Regions from separate parts of the Homo sapiens genome. Here region 2 is linked to region 1. The links come from fine-mapping of genetic effects on gene expression. A gene starts in region 1. The other region holds a variant in brackets. All regions are shown on one strand. Distances are from middle to middle. Region 1 holds the start of PNRC1 (proline rich nuclear receptor coactivator 1). Region 2 has its middle 8.1 kb from the start of SRSF12.

Region 1 (5,370 bases):
GCTCAGGAGTTTGAGACCGGCCTGGGCAACATGGTGAAACCCTGTCTCCACTAAAAACACAAAAAATTAGCCAGGAGTGGTGGTGTGTGCCTGTGGTCCCAGCTACTCAGGGGCGTGGGGGGCTGGGGTTGGAGGATCTCTTGAGCCTGGGAGGCGGCTGTTGCTGTAATCCGAGATCATGCCATTGCACTCCAATCTGAGTGTCAGAAAGAAACCCCGTCTAAAAAAAAAAAAAAGTTTATAAAGTGATTGGGAAGCATTTTTCTGGATATGCAATCTGTCCAACTTTGCCATCAATCATAAAACGTTTCATTGCTTACTAATTGCTTACTACTCCAAAGCTGAAAACTATTGTAGAGGCGGTGAGGATACAGAAGTGTAAGATTACTGTGGTCTTCTAATAATGTAGAATCTAGTGTGGCAGGGCTGGACGCGGTGGCTCACGCCTGTAATCCCAGCACTTTGGAAGGCCGAGGCAGGCGGATCACGAGGTCAGGAGATCAAGACCATCCTGGCCAACAAGGTGAAACCCCGTCTCTACTAAAAAATACAGAAATTAGCTGGGCGTGGCGGGTGCCTGTAATCCCAGCTACTAGGGAGGCTGAGGCAGGAGAATCTCTTGAACCAGGGAGACGGAGGTTGCAGTAAGCCGAGATGGCGCCACTGCACTGCAGCCTGGCCACAGAGTGACACGCCGTCTCAAAAAAAAAAAAAAAAAAATTAAAACTTTTGTCTTGCAGTACCTGGACTGGAGATCAAATTCTGATGTTAACTTACCGTTTGATCTTTGACAAGTCCTTTAGCCTTTCTAAGCCTGTTTCCCCAGCTGTAAAATGGGAATAAAATACAGTACTGTCCCTCCAAAAAGAAGCTGAGGCAAAATCAGGCCAAGCTTGAGGACTGCAACCCAGGACCATAGATTCAAGCTGCCCTGAATATACACTCGGATTAGCAAGTTACAAGTAGGTTTTTAAAGGAAAAGAGGCAGCTCCTAAATTGTTTACCAATTTACATTAAAATATCGTGGGCTCTTGACTAGCTATACATTGTTCTTTGTATCTTAAATTTCAGAAACTTAAAGATAATGCGTAGGCAGCTAATCAGGAACAAAATGCCTTTAAACAATTGCCCCAGGCATTAGTAGTGAAAGGAAGAGAATGACAGCCTGCCTACTTCGCAGAGCTGAGGTCTGATCTATTTTTCTTAGTACCTATTCGTAAGGGTTGTTGTGAGGTTAAAGTGAGACAATCTATGTAAAGAACAGTTCCTGGAACATAAATGCTTGATAAATTATGGCCACAATTCTTTTTTGTGGTTGAGCAGTGCGGGGAGATCGCGAAAAATTTCTATTTACGCGCAGCTAACAAAATACTCTATGTTGCAGAGCTGTTTCACTTTCTCCCTTTGAGACGCAAGCCGGCTTGCCGCCTCCTCAAGTAACCAGGCACAATGTTCTGATCCCAAAGTCTCACAATCCTTCAAGTATGAAATCAGTAAAAACTCCAACTTCCATTTATGGATTTACGGAGAACTTTTTATACATCGAGGGGCTAATTCAATCAGTAAGTCACTTTGATTTTTACTCTGATCACCGAGACTAATAAGCAGCGATGCCGAACCAAGTAAATGAAAGAATCGTGAGCCATACTTCAGTAGATAAAATTTAAATGTAGACTGATTTTCTTCACGATTGCTAGGGAAGAAATCCTTACAGCGTACTTAGAAATCTTTGTTTTAAAATGATAACGCTGTTATGTTGGGCTGAAAATAAAACGGATACTTCCCCAAGGTCAGCAGCGGAGGAGGCAACCGTGGCCTTGCCAAAGTCATCCCCTCTTCCCAGCCCCCGTTCTTCCTGCCGCCCTCCCCCTGCCCCCTCCCTTCCCCACCCCCATCAACAAACTCCGCCGGGACATTTCAGTACCACCACTCCCTAGCCCGGCGAAGCGCAGGGGCGTGCTGGGGAGGAGTAAAGAGGGTGGGGCGGAAACCCAATTTCATTGTTCGCGGGACCGATTCTTCCCAAAAGAGCTCGCTGGCAGCGCCTGCGCAGTGCGCCCTCTTTGTGCCAGGCTGCAGCAAGCTGGTTGTTTGTGTGTGTCTACCCGAAGCTGCGGAGGCGGAGCGAGGGGGCGTGGCCTGCCTTGTCGCACTCTAATTGGGCTTTCGCAGGAAAGTGGGCGGGCGCGGGGCGGAGCTTCCGATAACAACACTCGGAGCTGGGGCTGTGGCTATTTGTTGCTGCGCCGCCACCGCCCGAGTCATGTTCCGCGATCTTCTCAGGCTCTCCTAGCAGCATCCATCGCCGCCACCCTATCTTCACTGGCTTCATTCACCTTCTCCTTCTCTCTTCGTTGCTGAGCGACAAGCTTCCTAGCGCTATGACTGTCGTCTCCGTCCCGCAGCGGGAGCCGCTCGTCCTGGGTGGCCGCCTTGCGCCGCTTGGCTTTTCCTCCCGAGGTTACTTTGGGGCCCTCCCGATGGTGACCACGGCTCCGCCTCCTTTACCCCGGATCCCGGACCCCCGGGCACTGCCCCCGACCCTCTTCCTCCCTCATTTCCTAGGGGGAGATGGCCCGTGTCTGACCCCCCAGCCTCGCGCTCCAGCAGCTCTGCCCAACCGCAGCCTCGCCGTGGCGGGAGGCACTCCTCGGGCAGCGCCGAAGAAGCGGCGAAAGAAGAAGGTGCGGGCCAGCCCCGCAGGGCAGCTGCCCAGCCGCTTCCACCAGTACCAGCAGCACCGGCCGAGTCTGGAGGGCGGCCGGAGCCCCGCGACCGGCCCGAGCGGAGCGCAGGAGGTCCCGGGCCCGGCCGCCGCCTTGGCCCCGAGTCCTGCAGCCGCAGCCGGCACGGAGGGAGCCAGCCCCGACCTTGCCCCGCTGCGGCCCGCGGCTCCCGGCCAAACCCCCCTCAGGAAAGAGGTGAGGCCGCCAGGGGGCCGTTGGGGAGTCGGGCCCTTAGACGGTCGCGGCCGAGCTCTGGGGCTGCAGACCCTGCACCCGGGGGGTCGGGCGGGTGGGGGCGGGGTGGGGGGGGCGGCTGTTTACTCGGGAGGGAAGTTTCCGTGACGCCCGCTCCATTCTTGCTTTGGGGGAAGAAGGGGGAAGGGGAGGCATGCGCTGGCGCTTCTGATTGGCTCCCAGGAGTCGGCCAATGAGAAGCGCCGCTGCGCCCCAGCAACAGCCCCGATTTAGAAGGCTGGCGGCGTTCCAGGGGGTTTCGGCGTTCCGGGCGCGCGGCGGGGTGGGGGCAGGGACAGGGCCCGCGGGAGGGCTGACGTCAGCGCGCGCTACGTGCCCGGCGCTCCGGCGCCCATGAAGGAGGCGAGGCCGGGTGGGGGCAGCTGGGGAAGGACTGGGCCCGGCTTTCGGCCTCCCGGCTATCGGGAGCCCCAGTCCTAGTCGGTGAAACGCGGAGACGGCCTCTAACGTCCCGCCGTAGGGGGTGGAGTGGGCTCCGAGCGGCTGGGTTTCGTTTGGTTGGAGTTGTGCCAAAATGTGAGGTGCCCGGTGTGGGACGCGCAGTCCAGTTGGGGCTCTGCCCGCCTCGGGCCTGACCTACTTAGTGGTTCCAAGTTAAGAGTTGGCAGGAGCCGCACAAAACTGATTTTATTACTTTTGCCACTGTGGTACTTCGTGTTAGTGTGTCCAGAGTAAGTTTTCAGAAGAGTTAGCAATTGAATTGACTTAGCCCGTCTGATTGCAGTGCTATTGCATTAGGATAAAATGGATAGAAGTTTAAATAGGATTAAGTCTACGAAATGATTTCAAAGTCTTGTCAGAATAACGTTTTATGGACTTAAGTTCAATGACTTAATCTTCGTAATAATGAAATGAAAAAGTTCCCGTTATTTAGTGAAGAATGTTGCATTGAATTAGAGATTTGCGGTTTATCTGTGCCCTTGGGAAAAAATTTGCCCACCTTGTTTCTTTAAATTATCGTCTCAATGTCTCCCTTTTAAAATTCCACGACTTTTGAAATATCCGTGATTACCTAAAAGCTTTTGTGCTTGTTTCCTGGCCTGTTTTCTAGAACAGGTACTAACTAGGGAGCTCTGGCAGTGAACCTTATTGACGTGGAAAGTTGTGGTCCTCTTTCGTGTCGTGTCTTGCTTACTACCGCGTTACAAGTGTTGGTAGTGCAGTGATCTAGTGGATTACCTTACGCTTTTCCATCCTTTCAAGACTTCCTATAAGGCCCACTTAAGTTGGGAAAGATTAAGGTGAGTGAAGCAGCGTTCTTGAAGCAGTTACTAAACCAGAAAGGAGGTACACAGCAAAGATTGTTTCTGGCACTCGTATTTGGAAGAGAGCTCATTAGTCTTCCTTACAGTTGTAGAAAGGTGGACTTGGGTTATTTCAGACTTTTTTTAGTTTGACATTTTAGAACTGGTTCACGTTGCATACTGGTAACTAGCAGTGGTGATTAACTGCATTTTTAGTGGCGAACAAGAGTGAACTTAAAAGTCAAGGGAAATTTAAGTTTTTTGTTGTTTTTTTTTTCTTGAGACAGAGTCTGCCTCTATCGCACTCCAGGCTGGAATGCAGTGGCACGATCGATCTCTGCTCACTGCATCCTCCCCTTCCCAGGCTGAAGGGATCCCGCCTCAGCCAGCCTCCCGAGGCGCGTGTTACCACGCCGGGCTGATTTTTATATTTGTAGTAGACATGGGGTTTCGCTATGTTGCCCAGGCTGGTCTCGAACTCCTTGAGCTTGAGCGATCTGCTTGCCTTGACCTCCCAAAGTGCTGGGATTACAGGCGTGAGCCACCATGCCCAATTAAAGTTTTTGTAATTTTCAGCTTTTATTTTAGATCAAGGAGGTACTTGTGCAGGTTTGCTACATGGGTATATTTCGTGATGCTGAGGTTTGGAGTATGAATGATCCCATTCCAGGTAGTGAGCATAGTACCCAGTAGGTCCCCATCTCTCTCTCAACCCCCCTTCTAGTAGTGCCTAGTGTCTGTTGTTGTTCCCCACTATATCCATGTTGTACCCAGTGTTTAGCTCCCAAATTCACTTGTAAGTGAGAACTTGCGATATTTGGTTTTCTGTTTCTGCATTAATTCGTCTAGGGTAATGGCCCCCAGCTACATACGTGTTGTCACAAAGAACATAATTTTGTTCTTTTCTATGGCTGTGGGCAAACTTAAACACAACAAAACTAGATATGTGATATGAGGTTCATAACTGATTTTTATCTAGAAACTATATTTACTTTTGTGTTCTTGTCTTTGTAGGTTTTAAAATCAAAGATGGGAAAATCGGAGAAAATTGCCCTTCCCCATGGCCAGCTTGTTCATGGTATACACTTGTATGAGCAACCAAAGATAAACAGACAGAAAAGCAAATATAACTTGCCACTAACCAA
Region 2 (5,370 bases), 45 kb after region 1:
CAGTGCTTTGGGAGGCTGAGACAGGAGGATTGCATAAGGGCAGGAGTTTGAGACTAGTCTGGGCAACATACGATACCTCATCTCTAATAAAAATAAAAACAAATTAGCTGGGCATGGTGGTGTGTGCCTGTAGTCCCAGCTACTCAGGAGGCTGGAGCACAAGAATCTCATGAACCCAAGAGGTGGAGGTTGCAGTGAGCTGAGATCGTGCCACTGCACTCCAGCCTAGGCAACAGAGTGAGACTGTCTCAAAAAAAAAAAAAAAAAAAGGTTTATAGACAGAAGGAGAGCCAGGCACAATGGCTCATGCCTGTAATCCCCGTGCTTTGGGAGGCTGAGGCAGGATGATTGAGGCCAGGAGTTCAAGACTAGTCTGGGCAACATATGATAACTCATCTCTAGTAAAAATAAAAACAAATTAGTTGGGCATGGTGGAGTGTGCCTGTAGTCCCAGCTACTCTGGAGGCTGAGGTGGGAGGATCACTTGAGTCCAGGAGGTTGAGACTGAAGTGAGCTGTGTTCGTGCCACTGCACTCTAGCCTGGGCAATAAAGCAAGATCATGTCTCAAAATAATAATAATAAACAAAACCATGTTGGAAATTCCAGCCGATTACTTTTGTCTGCGCAGGCTCCAAGCCTGCTCTCTCTTATAAAAGGGAAATTAATCACTCAATATAGAGATGTTGAAGACATACTGGCACAAAACTAAAACTTTCTCCCTAATGTAAATATGGAAAGGGCCTAGTCTGGGCAACATACGAAACCTCATCTCTAATAAAAATAAAAACAAAGTAGCTGGGTATGGTGGTGTGTGCCTGTAGTTTTAACTCTCACACTATGCAATTCCACATTTAATGTCTCATCAGTGTAACATATAAAACTAAATAGTACCACCACTGGTGAGTATCTTTAATTTTTGAGAGACGTTCTTGCTAGAGATAGACACGTATGTAAATAAGTCATTATAATATTGTTTCATTAGTGCCACATAAAGGTATTTCGGAGTAGTATGGAGGATATAATGGAAACAGATTAGTTCTCTGGCGGGGAGTACTAGGAGTTATTTTAGAGGAAATCAATGTTTGTGCTATTTATTGGATTAAATTCACCCAGGAATAAAAAAAGCAAAGTGAACTCGATGAGCAAAGGGACATTTGTGGTGAGAGTAGTGTAGTGTTGCTGAACTAGGGGAGAAGGAAGGAAGAATGCTAAAGAGATTGGAATGGAGATTTAGAGCCAAAGTTGTTTTTGTTGTTGCTGTTGTTGTTTTTTTTTTTTTTTTCAATTCGGGGTCTTGCTTTGTTGCCCAGGCTGGAGTGCAGTGGTGCAGTCATGGCTCACTGCAGCCCCAACCTCCTGGACTCAAGCAATCCTCCCACTTCAGCTTCCCAAGTTGCTGGTGCTACAAGTGTGTACCACCATGCCCTGCTAATTTTTAAATTTTTTATAGAGGTAGGTCTTGCTATGTTTCCAGGCTGGTCTCACACTCCTGGCCTCAAGTGATCCTCCTGCCTCAGCCTTCCAAAATGCTGGGGTTACAGGTATGTAACCCCACTGTACCTGGCCCCATCAAGATTTTTTAAGCAGGAGATTAAGATCAGATTTGTGTTTAATAAGGATATTCTGACAAAAATGTGGAGGATGAATTGGAACAGTAGAGACTGGTACAAGCAGATCAGTTAAAAGGGTCTTGTGTGTGATATATTTTCTCTTTTAAAAAGTATTTCTCACCGGGCGCGGTAGCTCACGCCTGTAATCCCAGCACTTTGGCAGGCCGAGGTGGGCGGATCACGAGGTCAGGAGATCGAGACCATCCTGGCTAACACGGTGAAACTCCGTCTCTACTAAAAATACAAAAAATTAGCTGGGTGTGGTGGCAGGCGCCTGTAGTCCCAGCTACTCAGGAGACTGAGGCAGGAGAATGGCGTGAACCTGGGAGGCGGAGGTTGCAGTGAGCCGAGACCGCGCCACTGCACTCCAGCCTGGGTGACAGAGCGAGACTCC[G/A]TCTCAAAAAAAAAACCATTTCTCAGCTGGGTGCAGTGGCTCATGCCTGTAACCTCAGAACTTTGGGAGGCCAAGGCAGGTGGATTACCAGAGGTCAAGAGTTCAAGACCAGCCTGACCAAAATGGTGAAACCCCGTCTCTACTAAAAATACAAAAAAATTAGCCGGGCGTGGTGGCGGGTGCCTGTAATCCCAGCTACTCGGGAGGCTGAGGCAGGAGAGTCTCTTGAGCCCAGTAGGCGGACGTTGCAGTGAGCCAAGGTCGCACCATTGCACTCTAGCCTGGGCAACAACAGCAAAACTCTGTCTCAAAAAAAAAAAAAAATTCTCAGCCAGGCACAGTGGCTCATGCCTGTATTCCCAGCACTGTGGGAGGCCCAGACAGGCGGATCACTTGAGGTCAGGAGTCCGAGACCAGCCTGGCCAACATGGCAAAACCCCATCTCTAGTAAAAATACAAAAATTAGTTGGGCATTGGGGTGGGTGCCTGTAGCCCCAGCTACTTGAGAGGCTGAGACAGGAAAATCACTTGAACCTGGGAGGTGGAGGTTGCAGTTAGCTGAGATCATGCCACTACAATGCAGCCGGGGCGACAGAGTGAAACTCTGTCTCAAAAAAAAAAAAAGTAAAGTATTTCTTGGCTGGGCATGGTGTCTCATGCCTGTAGTATCAGCACTTTGGGAGGCCAAGGCAGGAGGATGGCTTGAGCCCAGAAGTTGGAGACCAACCTGGGCAACAAAGTGAGACCCCGTCTCTACAAAAAATTAAAAAGTTAGCCAGGTGTGGTGACACGCATCTGTAGTCCCAGCTACTGGGGAGGCTGAGGTGGGAGGATCACTTGAGCCTGTGAAGTTAAGACTGCAGTGAGCCATGATTGCACCACGGCATTCCAGGCTGAGGGACATAGAAAGACCTGTCTTAAAAAAAAAAGGCCTGGCATGGTGGCTCACGCCTGTAATCCTAGCACTTTGGGAGACCGAGGCGGGTGGATCACAAGGTCAAGAGTTCAAGACCAGCCTGGCCAAGATGGTGAAACCCCATCTCTACTAAAAATACAAAAATTAGCTGGGCATGGTGGCAGGCGCCTATAATCCCAGCTACTCGGGTGGCAGAGAATTGCTTGAACTTGGAGGTTGCAGTGAGCTGAGATTGCGCCACTGCACTCCAGCCTGGGTGACAGAACGAGACTCCATCTAAAAAAAAAAAAAAAAAAAAGGAGTTATTAGCATTGTCCACTGAAAAGGCTTAGAAACAATGACCAGCCCAGTACCATTTGGCACCCCTTATGGCCCAGACCATACTCCCTAAATATAATTTTGTCTTAAAATAAACAATGACTTTTTGGAAGTGTGGCTGATTCCATGCTTGAGGGAAAAATGTACACAATGAACCTAAAATATCTTGTCATATCAGAAAAAAGTTATCAAAAGCTTCTGGGGTCATGTGAAAAGGATTCCAAAGACAATCCTGGCTAGAGATAAGACAATTTGAGTAGCAATAAGAACAATAACTGCAATGAATTAAAACATATCAAATATTTTTAAGTGCACAAGTTCATAATTATACTAAAAAACAACCCTAATTGGTCACCTTTGGATCCTAACTTTCCTGTATAAATTTATTCCTCAGGGTAACCCAAATGGTTGATGAAGGAAGTTTTGTTTTGTTTTGTTTTTCTAAAAGTATTCCAGTCAATAAAATAAAGAGGAGATGATAGAATTATAATGTCATAATTTTGCAACCCCTAATGAAGTAGTGGGTCCAGGCAATGGCCATAAATGACTGCTAAATTAATACAAAGAGAAACATCCATTATATGCTCTTCTGAAGGAAGTTCACATCAGTACCTGTGAAATGCTTTTTTTTTTTTTTTTGAGACGGAGTGTCACTCTCTTGCCCAGGCTGGAGTGCAGTGGTGTGATTTTGGCTCACTGCAACCTCTGCCTCCCGGGTTCAAGCAGTTCTCCTGCCTCAGCCTCCCGAATAGCTTGGATTACAGGCATGTGCCGCCAAGCCTGGCTAATTTTGATTTTTGGTAGAGATGGAGTTTCACCATGTTGCCCAGGCTAGTCTCAAACTCATGACCTCAGGTGATTCACCCATCTCAGCCTCCCAAAGTGCTGGGATTACAGGCCAGAGCCACTGCACCTAGCTGAAATGCTCTTCCAAAAACACTGAGTCTAGCCTAGCTCAGCATTGGTTAATAGAACTTTCTGTAATAATGGAAGTGTTCTATATCTGCACTGTCCAATACTGTGGCCACTAAACACATGGGACTATTTAAATTTAAAATAAAATTTTAAATTCATTTAGTCCTGTTGTGGGAAGTCAGGGACCCCCAAATGGAGGGACCGGCTGGAGCCGCAGCAGAGGAACATAAATTGTGAAGATTTCATGGACATTTATCAATTCCCAAATAATACTTTTATAATTTTTATGCCTGTCTTTAATCTCTTAATCCTGTTACCTTCGTAAGCTAAGGATGTACATCACGTCAGGACCAGTGTGATAATTGTGTTAACTGTACAAATTGATTGTAAAACGTGTGTTTGAACAATATGAAATCAGTGCACCTTGAAAAAGAACAGAATAACAGCAATTTTTAGGGAACAAGAGAAGATAACCATAAGGTCTGACTGCCTGCTGGGTCAGGCAAAAAGAGCCATATTTTTCTTCTTGCAGAGAGCCTATAAATGGACATGCAAGTAGGAGAGATATTGCTAAATTCTTTTCCTAGCAAAGAATATTAATATTAATACCCTTGGAAAGGAATGCATTCCTGGAGGGAGGTCTATAAACGGCTGCTCTGGGAGTCTCTGTCTTATGCAGTTGAGATAAGGACTGAGATACGCCCTGGTCTCCTGCAGTACCCTCAGGCTTATTAGGGTGGGGAGAAAACTCCACCCTGGTAAATTTGTGGTCAGATCAGTTCTCTGCTCTCAAACCCTGTTTTCTGTTGTTTAAGATGTTTATCAAGACAATATGTGCACTGCTGAACATAGACCCTTATCAGTAGTTCTGCTTTTGCCCTTTGCCTTGTCATCTTTGTTGGACCCTTATCAGTAGTTCTGCTTTTGCCCTTTGTCCTGTTCCCTCAGAAGCATGTGATCTTTGTTCTGCTTTTTGCCCTTTGAAGCATGTGATCTTTGTCCCTACTCTCTGTTCTTACACCCCCTCCCCTTTTGAAACCCTTAATTAAAAAACTTGCTGGTTTGAGGCTCAGGTGGGCATCATGGTCCCACCAATATGTGATGCCACCCCCGGTGGCCCAGCTGTAAAATTCCTCTCTTTGTACTTTCTCTTTATTTCTCAGCCAGCTGACACTTATGGAAAATAGAAAGAACCTATGTTGAAATATTGGGGGCG

The links. PIP is the estimated chance that this variant, and not a neighbour inherited with it, causes the effect.
Region 2: its variant is the best candidate, but not a certain one, in a credible set for the expression of PNRC1 in T cells (TOPMed, PIP 0.70).

What each region holds. Positions count from the first base shown.
Region 1 is chr6:89,078,514-89,083,883 of GRCh38, forward strand. It overlaps PNRC1 (proline rich nuclear receptor coactivator 1), which reads left to right and starts at 2,238. Exons shown (of 2, transcript NM_006813.3): 1 at 2,238-2,921; 2 at 5,240-5,370. The coding sequence starts at 2,382. PNRC1-DT (PNRC1 divergent transcript) reads right to left here and starts at 2,067. Exons shown (of 1, transcript NR_187250.1): 1 at 1,649-2,067. RefSeq lists enhancers at 1,343-1,432, 2,951-3,911 and silencers at 1,863-2,072, 2,123-2,272, 2,663-3,042.
Region 2 is chr6:89,123,470-89,128,839 of GRCh38, forward strand. It overlaps a transcript of PM20D2 not described here. Among named protein-coding and RNA genes, the nearest start is that of SRSF12, 8.1 kb to the left of the region's middle. RefSeq lists an enhancer at 4,921-5,215 and a silencer at 4,921-5,215. The variant G/A (reference allele first, on the strand shown) is at 2,006.